3 linked regions of the Homo sapiens genome follow. The protein of the gene in region 2 purifies or fractionates together with the protein of the main gene of each other region. This does not show direct contact. Each region holds a gene or a part of one and is shown on either strand. Other genes may lie near its edges. The genes, in order: CSNK1G2, LRRIQ1 and UNC5B.

Region 1 (2,822 bases), on a different chromosome or scaffold from region 2:
CCGGACCCCGCTGAGGCTGCGCCCCTGTCCCCGCAGAGCAGAGCCGCCGCGACGACCTGGAGGCGCTGGGCCACATGTTCATGTACTTCCTGCGCGGCAGCCTCCCCTGGCAGGGGCTCAAGGTGGGCGAGGAGGCCGGGCAGGCGGGCGGGGACGCAGGGCGGGAGCAAGGCTGACCACAGACCCCCGCAGGCCGACACGCTCAAGGAGCGGTACCAGAAGATCGGGGACACCAAACGCGCCACGCCCATCGAGGTGCTCTGCGAGAACTTCCCAGGTAAGGGGTCCCTGCGCCCCCGCCCTGTGCCCCCCACCCCCCACCCCCCACCCCCACCCCCGCCGAGGCCCCGCTGGCGCTCTCTCTGCAGAGGAGATGGCCACGTACCTGCGCTATGTGCGGCGCCTGGACTTCTTCGAGAAGCCCGACTATGACTACCTGCGGAAGCTCTTCACCGACCTCTTCGACCGCAGTGGCTTCGTGTTCGACTATGAGTACGACTGGGCCGGGAAGCCCCTGGTAGGTGGGGGGGTGCCGGTATGTGGGAGCGGGGGACCGGGAAACTGCCCTGAGGGAGATGGGAACCGGCGCTGCAGCCCATCCTGACCCCTGCTCCCTCACCCACAGCCGACCCCCATCGGCACCGTCCACACCGACCTGCCCTCCCAGCCTCAGCTCCGGGACAAAACCCAGCCGCACAGCAAAAACCAGGTGAGGCCCGGGCGGGACCGACCGCCCCAGGGAGGGGCATGGGCGGCCAGCGTGACCCCCTACTGCCCCCACCAGGCGTTGAACTCCACCAACGGGGAGCTGAATGCGGACGACCCCACGGCCGGCCACTCCAACGCCCCGATCACAGCGCCTGCAGAGGTGGAGGTGGCCGATGAAACCAAGTAAGGCTCTGGGGCGGTGCCTTCGGGGAGGTGGGGGTGCCCTGGGTCCCCATGGGGGTGGGAGGGCCTGAGGCCTGGGCTGCCCCCGCCCTGCACCCCGGTCCTCCTACCTGAGCCACTGCCCTCCTCAGATGCTGCTGTTTCTTCAAGAGGAGAAAGAGAAAATCGCTGCAGCGACACAAGTGACCCTGGGCGCGTGCAGCCCCCTGAATCTTCTCCGTGCAGCCCCTTGGGGCGCGACCTTGTGCGAGGCCCTCGGGGCCCACCCACAGCGGCCCAGGGCCAGACCCTGGCTGGAAGCCAGAACGCAGACTGCAGGGGCCGCGCCTGGCTCAGGCGGCCCCACCCCCGGGACGTGGGGTCACTTCCTTCATGTAAGACTTTGGCCGAAATTTCTACACCTGTGTCTAGTCCTCCCCTCCAAGAGCATTAACTATTTAAAACAAGGAAAAGAGGAAAAAAAAAACAGAGGCCCGCCCTACCCCACTCCTGCCCCTCCGTTTCTTTGCTGAAGTGAGTAGTGTGATCCTGGAGGCCCCCCGGCCTGGCCCCGCCCCGCCAGCCGCCCCCGTTAGCGTCATAAAGTCCAGCTTGTCTCCCTCGATCCAAAGGCCGTTTTCTCGAGGGGAGGGCAGGCCCGGCCTGGAGGGGTGCTGTGGAGCTGTCTTGCCCAGGCCCTCCTGGGAGGGGGACAGGCATTGTTGCCAGGGGTGAGGCCGTGCCCCAGGCCTCCCCGAAACCAAAGGGGAAGGCAGGGGTGGGGCCGTGGCTGAAGCCGGCTCCCCAACCAAAATGCTGCACCAAAGCTCGGGCGCCGCGGGCACGGCTGCTGCAGTCTCTTCCCAGCCTGGCCCTGGCAAGGGGCGGGTGGGCGCTGCCAGGCGGGTGCTTCTCGACGCACTTGCTCCCGGAGGCTGCGCCCCGGCGCCTGGAACCCGAGGTGGGAGGACCGGTTGGTGTCACCCTGCTCGGCCCTCAGCCCTGCCGCGTGGGGCGCGTGGGCACGGAGCTTCCTGCCTCTCTGCTCCGACACCCGGCAAGCAGCCGGAGACAAAACGCCTTAAAGCCCCCGGCCCAGCCCTGCAGGTATATTGCAGGGGCCTGGGGGCGGCCCTGGACTGGCGGGCGGTTCCCCAGTGGGGTGCCCTGGAGGCTGCCGGGCAGAGTGGAGCAGCTTGGGGCCGTGCCCAGGGCGGTGGCTGTGAGTCTAGTTTTTGCTTTACCAAGTGTACAGAAATGGCATTTACGTTTCTCTGATGCTCCCTTGAAGCCATAGAATTTAGGGGCTTTTTTAAAAAAATAAAAGAAAAATGAAACCAAACCCAAGTGTAGAGGGATTTGTCTGGGCTTTCCACGAAGCTTGACCTGGAACGGGCGTTGCTTCCATCCCCATCCTGCCTGTCCGGGACGAGTCCGGAGCGGCTGGCGGCCTCCGGTAACAGAAACCGACTGATGAGGCGGAAGGTAAGGAAGATGGAAGCAGAGGGCAGAGCTGGGCTCTGTCTGGGGAGAGGGCAGGAGACGAGTGTTCACGTACCATGGAAAGGGGAAGTCACACACATGCGACTTGGCCCCGGGGGTCCCGTTCCCCGACACTACACAAATATACCTGAAAGCCTCAGCGACGGGGCCCAGGCAGGATGGTCCTGGCTGCTCTGACGGCGGAAGGCCTCCTTGACTCCCTCTGTTCACGCAGCAGGGCAGAAAACATCTCCACGGGGGCCACGACACTGTGAAGGGAATCAGCAGTAGCTCCCAGAAGAACAGCGGAAACTGCAGGCAGGTGAAGACCTTGGCAGCACTAGCCCCGGCTCCGCCCCGTGCCTTCTCCCCAGACAACACCCCATACCCGGCAGCAAGGGTGGAAGACCAGTACCACCGTAATATGTTGTGACAAAGCAGAAATAATGCACCTGTAAGAGTCAGATGGC
Region 2 (3,655 bases):
ATTTAAAAATCCTTAAGCTCAGTGCCCTTTTTTGTGGTGGTTATTACTTAATACAAGTTACCATTAGTAGCAAAATGCCAAAAATAAAAAATAGTTAAAACATTTAAAAATAAAAAATAAAAATATATTCATTACCCATAATTATTGCTCTTTAGTCTTCTCTTTTGAGATATTACTGCATATAACCCAATGGTCTAGTATTTTCAACTTTATAACTTTTTTGATGAAACGGGCTATTAAGCAGCCCTCGAAAACAATCCATTTGCCTTCTCTTTGCTTGCTTGAGACCCACATTTGACAAGTGGTATTAGAAGCCCTGGGCCATGTTCTTTACATACAGCATTTTAAAACTCAGTGATCCTATATAATAGATATTGCTGTTCCAGTTTGTGAAAGACAAAACTGAGGCTCATACAGGTCAAGCATTTGCATAAGGTGTCACAGCCATAAGTGGCAGAAATAAAATTAGAAACAGTCTTAACATAGAACTTAGTAGTCTAATAAGCTACACTTCAGTAATTTTACATTCATTTCCTCTTCAGTCAATATACTTTATCTAAACTGTGAAACTGGTAGTAATGAGGAGATAAGATTAACATTCAATTGCAGTTCTTTTTTTTAATTATACTTTAGGTTACATGTATACATGGGATACATGTGCAGAACATGCGGTTTTGTTATATAGGTATACACGTGCCACGTGCCATGGTGGTTTGCTGCACCCATCAACCCGTCCTCTACATTAAATATTTCGACTGGAATTCTTTATTCATCAATTGATTCATCCCCCCACTCATCCATCCTATAATCAGGTAATGAAAGTCATTACAGATAGTTCCTGACAAGAGATAGTTTAGCGTAGAATTTTTTTTAAATTTTATGATGGTGTGAGATCAATAGACATTTAGTTGAAACCATACTTCAAATTTTGAATTTTGATCTTTTCCCAAGCTAGCAATATAAAGTATGATCATTTCTCACAATGTCAGGCAACGGCAGGGAGCTGCATCTCCCAGTCAGTCACATGATCATGAGGGTAAACAACAAATACTCTACAGTGTACCACGTTGCCAGATGATTTTGCCCAGTTGTAAGCTATGTAGGTTTATCTGGATGTAACTTCATTGTAACTTGAGGAGTATCTTTATTTGCCTGGCAATGTGTAAAGAAGTATGAACAACACGAAGATCCGATTTATGTCTTGAAGTCTCAAAGTAAGAGATTAATGTAAGCAAAATGAATGCATTACTGGGAGACAATAAACTTTTCTAAGTTGATCTCCAGAAGGACATCCCAAGGATGGCAGTGAGTGATCAGGATAAGGATAAAGATCTGAAGCTAAAAGATCAGAAAGTCAAAAAGAAACTGAGCCATGGATCAGTAGTAACAGTGGTGAATAAAGACACCATGGTAAGCCATCTACCAAACAGAATCTTTACAGGAGTTGTCTGGTAACAAAAGATGATATTTTCTTAACATTTTAGCATCTATATGGCACATTCACATGTATTTTTCATCTTTATACTGCCTATTTGATGCTTCAAAGCTAAATTAAAAGCTTGAGATAGTTGCTTTAAGAAGGGATGAGAGGATTATGGTGCCCTTTAGAACACTGCTACTCAGATTAGTCCACTCACCAGCACCAACATCATCATTTAGAATCATTGCAAGAATGGAGAATGGGTGGATCACCAGACCTATTGAATCAGAATCCACATTTCTACAAAGCTTCAGGTATTCTATAGATTTTAATAGTTTGCCAGGCCTTGCTCTAAGAAGTAAAAGAAAGAGTTAATTATCATTTTATGTAAATTGACAAACGTTCGAAAGAAGGAACAGAGAGTCAGCTGGAGAAGAAATGCCAAGGAGAAAGAGGCTCACACATCTTAACTTCCTTCTCATTGGACAGAACAGAGACCTACAAAGCAAGGGAGGAACACTACTGTTTCTGTAACTTCATTTTCACTTTTGAAGCAAGTACACTGTAGGCATGAAGCCATCACTCTTGCCTAGCTTTAACAGATACTCATGAGGAAAACTAAATAATTGCTAATGTTATCATATTGGAAGGCCTGCAGCAATATGTTAGAGAAAGAAAAGTGCTAAAACATGATTCCAGAGATAACATGCGCAAGGAAAAAATTGGAGAAGAGCAGATGAGAGATTCTATATGTAGCTCTGCAGACCTGACAGATGTGGCAAATACATTACCCAGGAAATAAAAGACACTTAAAAGTGTATGTCCCAGTTCTCATCTCTTATATTGCTATTTCATATACCAGAAATATCTTCAAAATCCCACTATTTTATTATTCTCTCACAGGATACTCTGAAGCCTTATTTACAGCAATTCTCAAGATCCATAATAACGTATTTATGTGTGTTTAAGCTCCGTAAAAGACTGGGTTTTCTTTGTTTATTAGTCAACCAATAAATATTGATCATCTTATTGGATAGATGAATATTTGCTGAGTGAATAAACAAAATAATGTTTATCTATTAATATGATTGTTCTTTCTCCTAGGCATCTGTCTAGCAAGAAAGTCTATCAAGAAACTAAATAAACTTTATTGAATACTTTTGACTTTCAGGCCTTAGCTAAATATATGTATTTTAATCATAAGTGCTTTCTAGTGTTACACTGTTTAAAATATTATTTTCTCTTTTTCTATACGTTTATTAGTTTCTGTGTCTTAATTTTGGTTGAAACTATGTTCTCCATAACCATATAAAATTAGTAACATTTGATGACAACTATTTTACATTTCAGACATATATGCACCACCTTTAAATAGCACACGCTAAATAATTGTTGCTAGATGGGAATTCTAGGGTCTTCAGGGTCTTCTATCATGCAAGCCCTTCTTTCACAACAGTGGTCATGGACATAAAATCCACTTTATTCCAAAAGCAGCCACTAGGTGGTGTGGTGGCTCAAGTCTAAAGCAAACTTCTGTTTACTTAGGAGTTTCCTACTATAATTCTAACCCTAACTTTCTATATGCTTCCATTCTTAGAGGTTTAAATAATGACTGGAGGGCCCTTGAACACAGGCTTCAAGATATTAAAAAATATAAATCAAAGCTTTTTATAGAGTGTCACTTAGGGAAGATGCCTCGAACAATTTGTTGAGATATATCCCCTCCCAAATGGGGTAATATTTCATTCATAACTTTATTAAACAAGAGACAATTCTTGTATACAAAATATTTCTTTTTCTAAGATCTGAAAAGTTATACTTTAAAGAGCTAATTGTAATTAAATGTGAAAAATTATTATAAAATTAGAAATACCTGCTGTAAAGTATCCCAAGGGCCACATCGAAGAATTTCCAGTTTATCCAAAGCGGGTGTCATGTTGGCTGGGCATTTCACAGGTCTCTTTCTTCTAACAATTTTCTTTTGTTGATTTTGCTTGAAAATTTCAAGCCAAGGTTTAAATGATTTTATCCAGGCTAGTCTCCTTTCTTCAATAGAATATAGAAGGGTTGACTCTGATACACAGCAGGTCATGCTATCAGGTTCAGGTGCATTTTCATGGCATTTTTCTGAAATATTTCTAATCTCAGATTTAAGAGAGTTGACTTCTTTAGATACCATGGAGCTTTCTGCATTATAGTTACTCAAGCCCTCACAAGGAGCATGTCTACCTAACA
Region 3 (3,655 bases), on a different chromosome or scaffold from region 2:
CCGGGCTGAGGGTGGGGGGGTGGAGGGAGGGCCTCCTGCCTGCCCGCCCCCAACCAACTGCCTCCAGAGGCTTCAGCCCCATCTTGGTTCCTGCACAGAGATCTCAGGCCAAGAGAGAGAGAGCGGGGGTGGAGAAGGAACTCTGGGCCCTCTAACAACAGAGTACATGGATTTTCTAAGGCTGGTCATGGTCTGGGGGTTGGGGAAGAGGAGGAGGAGAGGCAACTCTGGCTGTGAACTGGGAGGAAGCAGAGGCCAAACATCCCCATCAGGAGGCTGCCCCAGGCCTCCCTGCACCTGCCTCCTGCCAGTCCCTGCCAGCCCGCTGTCCCAGGAGGCTCAGCAGTCCCCGTCGGTGGCCACAGCCACCAGCATCTCACTCTTGCCCATCTCCTCCAAGGCACTCGCCAGGCTGTTGAGGTCCCCATCGTCCTGCTGCAGAGCTTCCCAGAGGTCCAGGATCACACCCGTGGGGCTCGCTTTGGTGGCAAAGTAATTCAGGTACCTGGCAGAGGGAAGGAGGGCACTGAGGTTCCCAAGCACTTAGCCCCTCCCCGGAGCCTGGAGGTGAAGGGGCACAAGGGGAAGTGGGAAGGCTGTGAGCTTTGGTGTCCCACTGTCCTGGGTCTGAATTGCAGCTACTGTGCTGCAGTCTGTGTGGCTCTCGGCAATTCAGAACCTATGGCTCAGAATCTCAGTCTCCTTGTCTCTAAAATGGGAACAATGCCAGTTACCGCTCAGCAAGATCCAAGATCATATAAAGTAAGGGTCTAGCGTTGTCTCTAGCATGTAACCATCTTGTTCATCATCATCATTATTATCATTGAAAGACACTGGCCCCAAGAGAGAATGACCACGTCTAGCATGTGGTCATTCCTCCCACCCGTGTTCCCTCCTGCTCCCATGAACTCCCCTGATAGGAGGAATAAAGCCTTAGCCATCTTTGTAAGTCCTATTCATTTCTAGTAAAATGTCTTATCTAAAGCATATTTTATTTATTTATTTTTTGAGACTCAATGCAGGTTTATTACACATCTTTCAATAAGTATAATATTTATTATCATTGGCCTTATATTTATCCAGCACTTATCCAGCATTTGAGGTTCTCCAAAGGAGTTTTGACACCAAAGTGTATCTTGGTCAGTCAGCAAGCATCTCGCAGCACATTCTCTGTCCTAGATACCAGGTGCTGACAATGATGGCACCAAGCTGATGCCCTGGCTTTGAGTCTCCTGCTGTTCGGTGAGATGGGCAGGTGGAGCATTATCCCCACACAATGGGAAAAGAGCAGGGTCTGAGAGTCTGCCTGGCTCAAGGACCAGTGCTCTGAGCATGATGCTCCTCAAGGGAGCAGTATTCTTGAACTTTGCATATCCAATCCTGAGTTGCTGATTTGCCACAAATGGTGGCAAAAGGGCAGCTGGTCTGGGAGATGGTCGTGGCTGTCAGGCTGCCTGCCCTGCCTGCCCCTGTGAGACCTTGAGGACGAAGGCAGATGGGGATGGGCTGTGGTTTGGGATACTCACCGGTCCATAGAGAGCTTCTGTGCTAACATCCGCCAGTCATTGCCCCGTGAGTTGGGGGCATCTAGGCTGTTGCATATCTTCTGGCGGATGGACAGTGGGATCTTGAAGGCATAAGGTCCCAGCTGGGTGGTGACAGTGCTGCCAGGGGCAGAGCAGAGAGTGTCCAGGGAGCCAGCAGGTGTCTGCAAGGGTGGGGGCCAAGAGTGAGAGGGGCACAGTGCTGGGCATCTGCCCTCCAGCCTCCCTCCCCTTGGACTGTGAGCTCATTGAGCCTTGAGTCACTCCCACCTCCTCTGGACAGACTCCCACTGTTCAGGCAGGGGCTTCTCCCTTGAAGGGTCGGTTCCCAAGGGCAAGGCCTGCATGGCCACCCTTCAGGCCTCAGGGGGTGCACCATGCTTACCTAAGGCCCCAGGCAAATGCAGATGCAGCCTCATGGTTAGGAAGCCCCAAGGAGGCCCAGCCACAGTCTAATCCACATGCACCCTCTTGTACAGGTGGAAAGTGAAGTCTAGAAAAGGGGAGTGGCTTGCTCATGGCCACATGCCAAGTTAGTGGCAGACCTGGGTCCAGACCTGTATCCAGTGCTCTTTACAATGCCCCAAGAGGAGGATCTAGTGTTGTCACCCTGGGTGGCCTGGGTTTTTAAATCTCAATCCGGATTTTTAACGGTTGAGAACCACAGGCCTGGTCCTTGCATCAACCTGGGTTCGAATCCAGTCTTGCCACTGGTGTACTGTGTGCAAATCCTTGCCCTTCCTAAAACCTACTTTCTCACCTCCCAGGTGGGGATGATATCTGTCATGCATCTCCCGGTGCTTGTGAGATCATGTAAGTTTTTTGGTATATGCCAAGCATGTGAATGGCACTCAATCAATAAATGACACTTGTTAGAAAAACATGACCAGATACCCGCTCAGACTTGGGAGGTGAGAGGGAACTACAGGGTTCTGTGTGCTGCAGCCCAGCCCCAAACCCTAGAGGTATCCTCTGGCCCTCACCTCCACCAGCGTGGTGTGCAGCTGGAATATCTGGCGGCCCTTCCCTCACCTATGCCACAGTGCTGTGCAGCCGGAATATCTGGCCGCCCTTCCCTCACCTCCACCAGAGTGGTGTGCAGCCGGAATATCTGGCCGCCCTTCCCTCACCTCCGCCAGCGTGGTGTGCAGCTGGAATATCTGCCCCACCCTTCCCTCACCTCCGCCAGCGTGGTGTGCAGCTGGAATATCTGCCCCACCCTTCCCTCACCTCCGCCAGCGTGGTGTGCAGCTGGAATATCTGCCCCACCCTTCCCTCACCTCCGCCAGTGTGGTGTGCAGCTGGAATATGTGGCCCCGACTTCCCTCACCTCTGCCAGAGTGGTATGCAGCTGGAATATCTGGCCCTCCCCTTCCACTTGCCGCACGCAGATCTTGCAGGTGAGCTCTGTGGAGGCCAAGCTGTGCCTCTCCAGGGTGAAAGTGCAGTGGAGGGCCTTCTGGCTGCCACTCCAAATGTGATAGAAGGGGATCTCCTGCAGGAGGAGGGGGTCAGGACCAGGCAGGCAAGGCCAGCCTGCCCTGTCCTCATAGAAATGGAGGCTCAGGGAGGGTTGGGAGCTTTGGGGGGCAGTTCAGGCCTCTCCACCCAGATAGGGAGGGGTCAAGTGCCCTAAGCTAGCCAGCTGAGTTGGTGTCAGGCCCTCAGTTCCAGAAGGGAGCTGAGGGTGGGTAGGTGGGGGAGGGAAAGGCACAGGTGTGTGTGTGTCAGGGGCTAGGGGGCCTTGTGGTCTCAGGCGCTGCTGGGTGGGCAGCGGGCTGTGGCTGTCAGAGATGAGATGGGCAGTCTGCCAGGAGGGCATGCCCTGAAGGGTGAGGAGCCTCTGTGAGGATGAAGGGCATAGTCGTCTGTGCGTGTGAGGGTGTGACAGGGCAGAAGTGTGCATGTGGCTGCCCATTGCCCTGAATTTGGGGACGTGCCTGGGGATGGCTGAAAGCCTAGAGACTGGGGTGGGAGGAGACAGAGACAGTGAGAGATCCAGGGAGGGGTAAGGCCACAGGACAGAGCTAGGAGGCAGGGCCCGGGAGGGAGCTGGGCTTCCCGGGCAGCCCTTAAGTGGTGCCCCTCCCCATCCATCAGCCCAGCCCTCA

Evidence for each region.
Region 1: the proteins of LRRIQ1 (region 2) and CSNK1G2 purify together in Homo sapiens (affinity purification with mass spectrometry; 2 studies listed by BioGRID and IntAct, with this or other methods). This does not show direct contact.
Region 3: the proteins of LRRIQ1 (region 2) and UNC5B purify together in Homo sapiens (affinity purification with mass spectrometry; 2 studies listed by BioGRID and IntAct, with this or other methods). This does not show direct contact.

Annotation. Positions count from the first base shown.
Region 1 is NC_000019.10:1,979,127-1,981,948, forward strand, and holds the end of CSNK1G2 (casein kinase I), read left to right. Parts: intron 1-36; coding exon 37-122; intron 123-192; coding exon 193-277; intron 278-368; coding exon 369-517; intron 518-625; coding exon 626-709; coding exon of another isoform or gene 710-784; coding exon 785-891; intron 892-1,022; coding exon 1,023-1,077; 3' UTR 1,078-2,212; downstream 2,213-2,822. UniProt on the Homo sapiens protein: Serine/threonine-protein kinase. Casein kinases are operationally defined by their preferential utilization of acidic proteins such as caseins as substrates. It can phosphorylate a large number of proteins. Participates in Wnt signaling.
Region 2 is NC_000012.12:85,056,823-85,060,477, reverse strand, and holds part of LRRIQ1 (leucine-rich repeat- and IQ domain-containing protein 1), read right to left. Parts: coding exon 3,294-3,655; intron 1-3,293.
Region 3 is NC_000010.11:71,295,962-71,299,616, reverse strand, and holds part of UNC5B (netrin receptor UNC5B isoform 1 precursor), read right to left. Parts: intron 3,040-3,655; coding exon 2,875-3,039; intron 1,709-2,874; coding exon 1,527-1,708; intron 506-1,526; coding exon 340-505; 3' UTR 1-339. UniProt on the Homo sapiens protein: Receptor for netrin required for axon guidance. Mediates axon repulsion of neuronal growth cones in the developing nervous system upon ligand binding.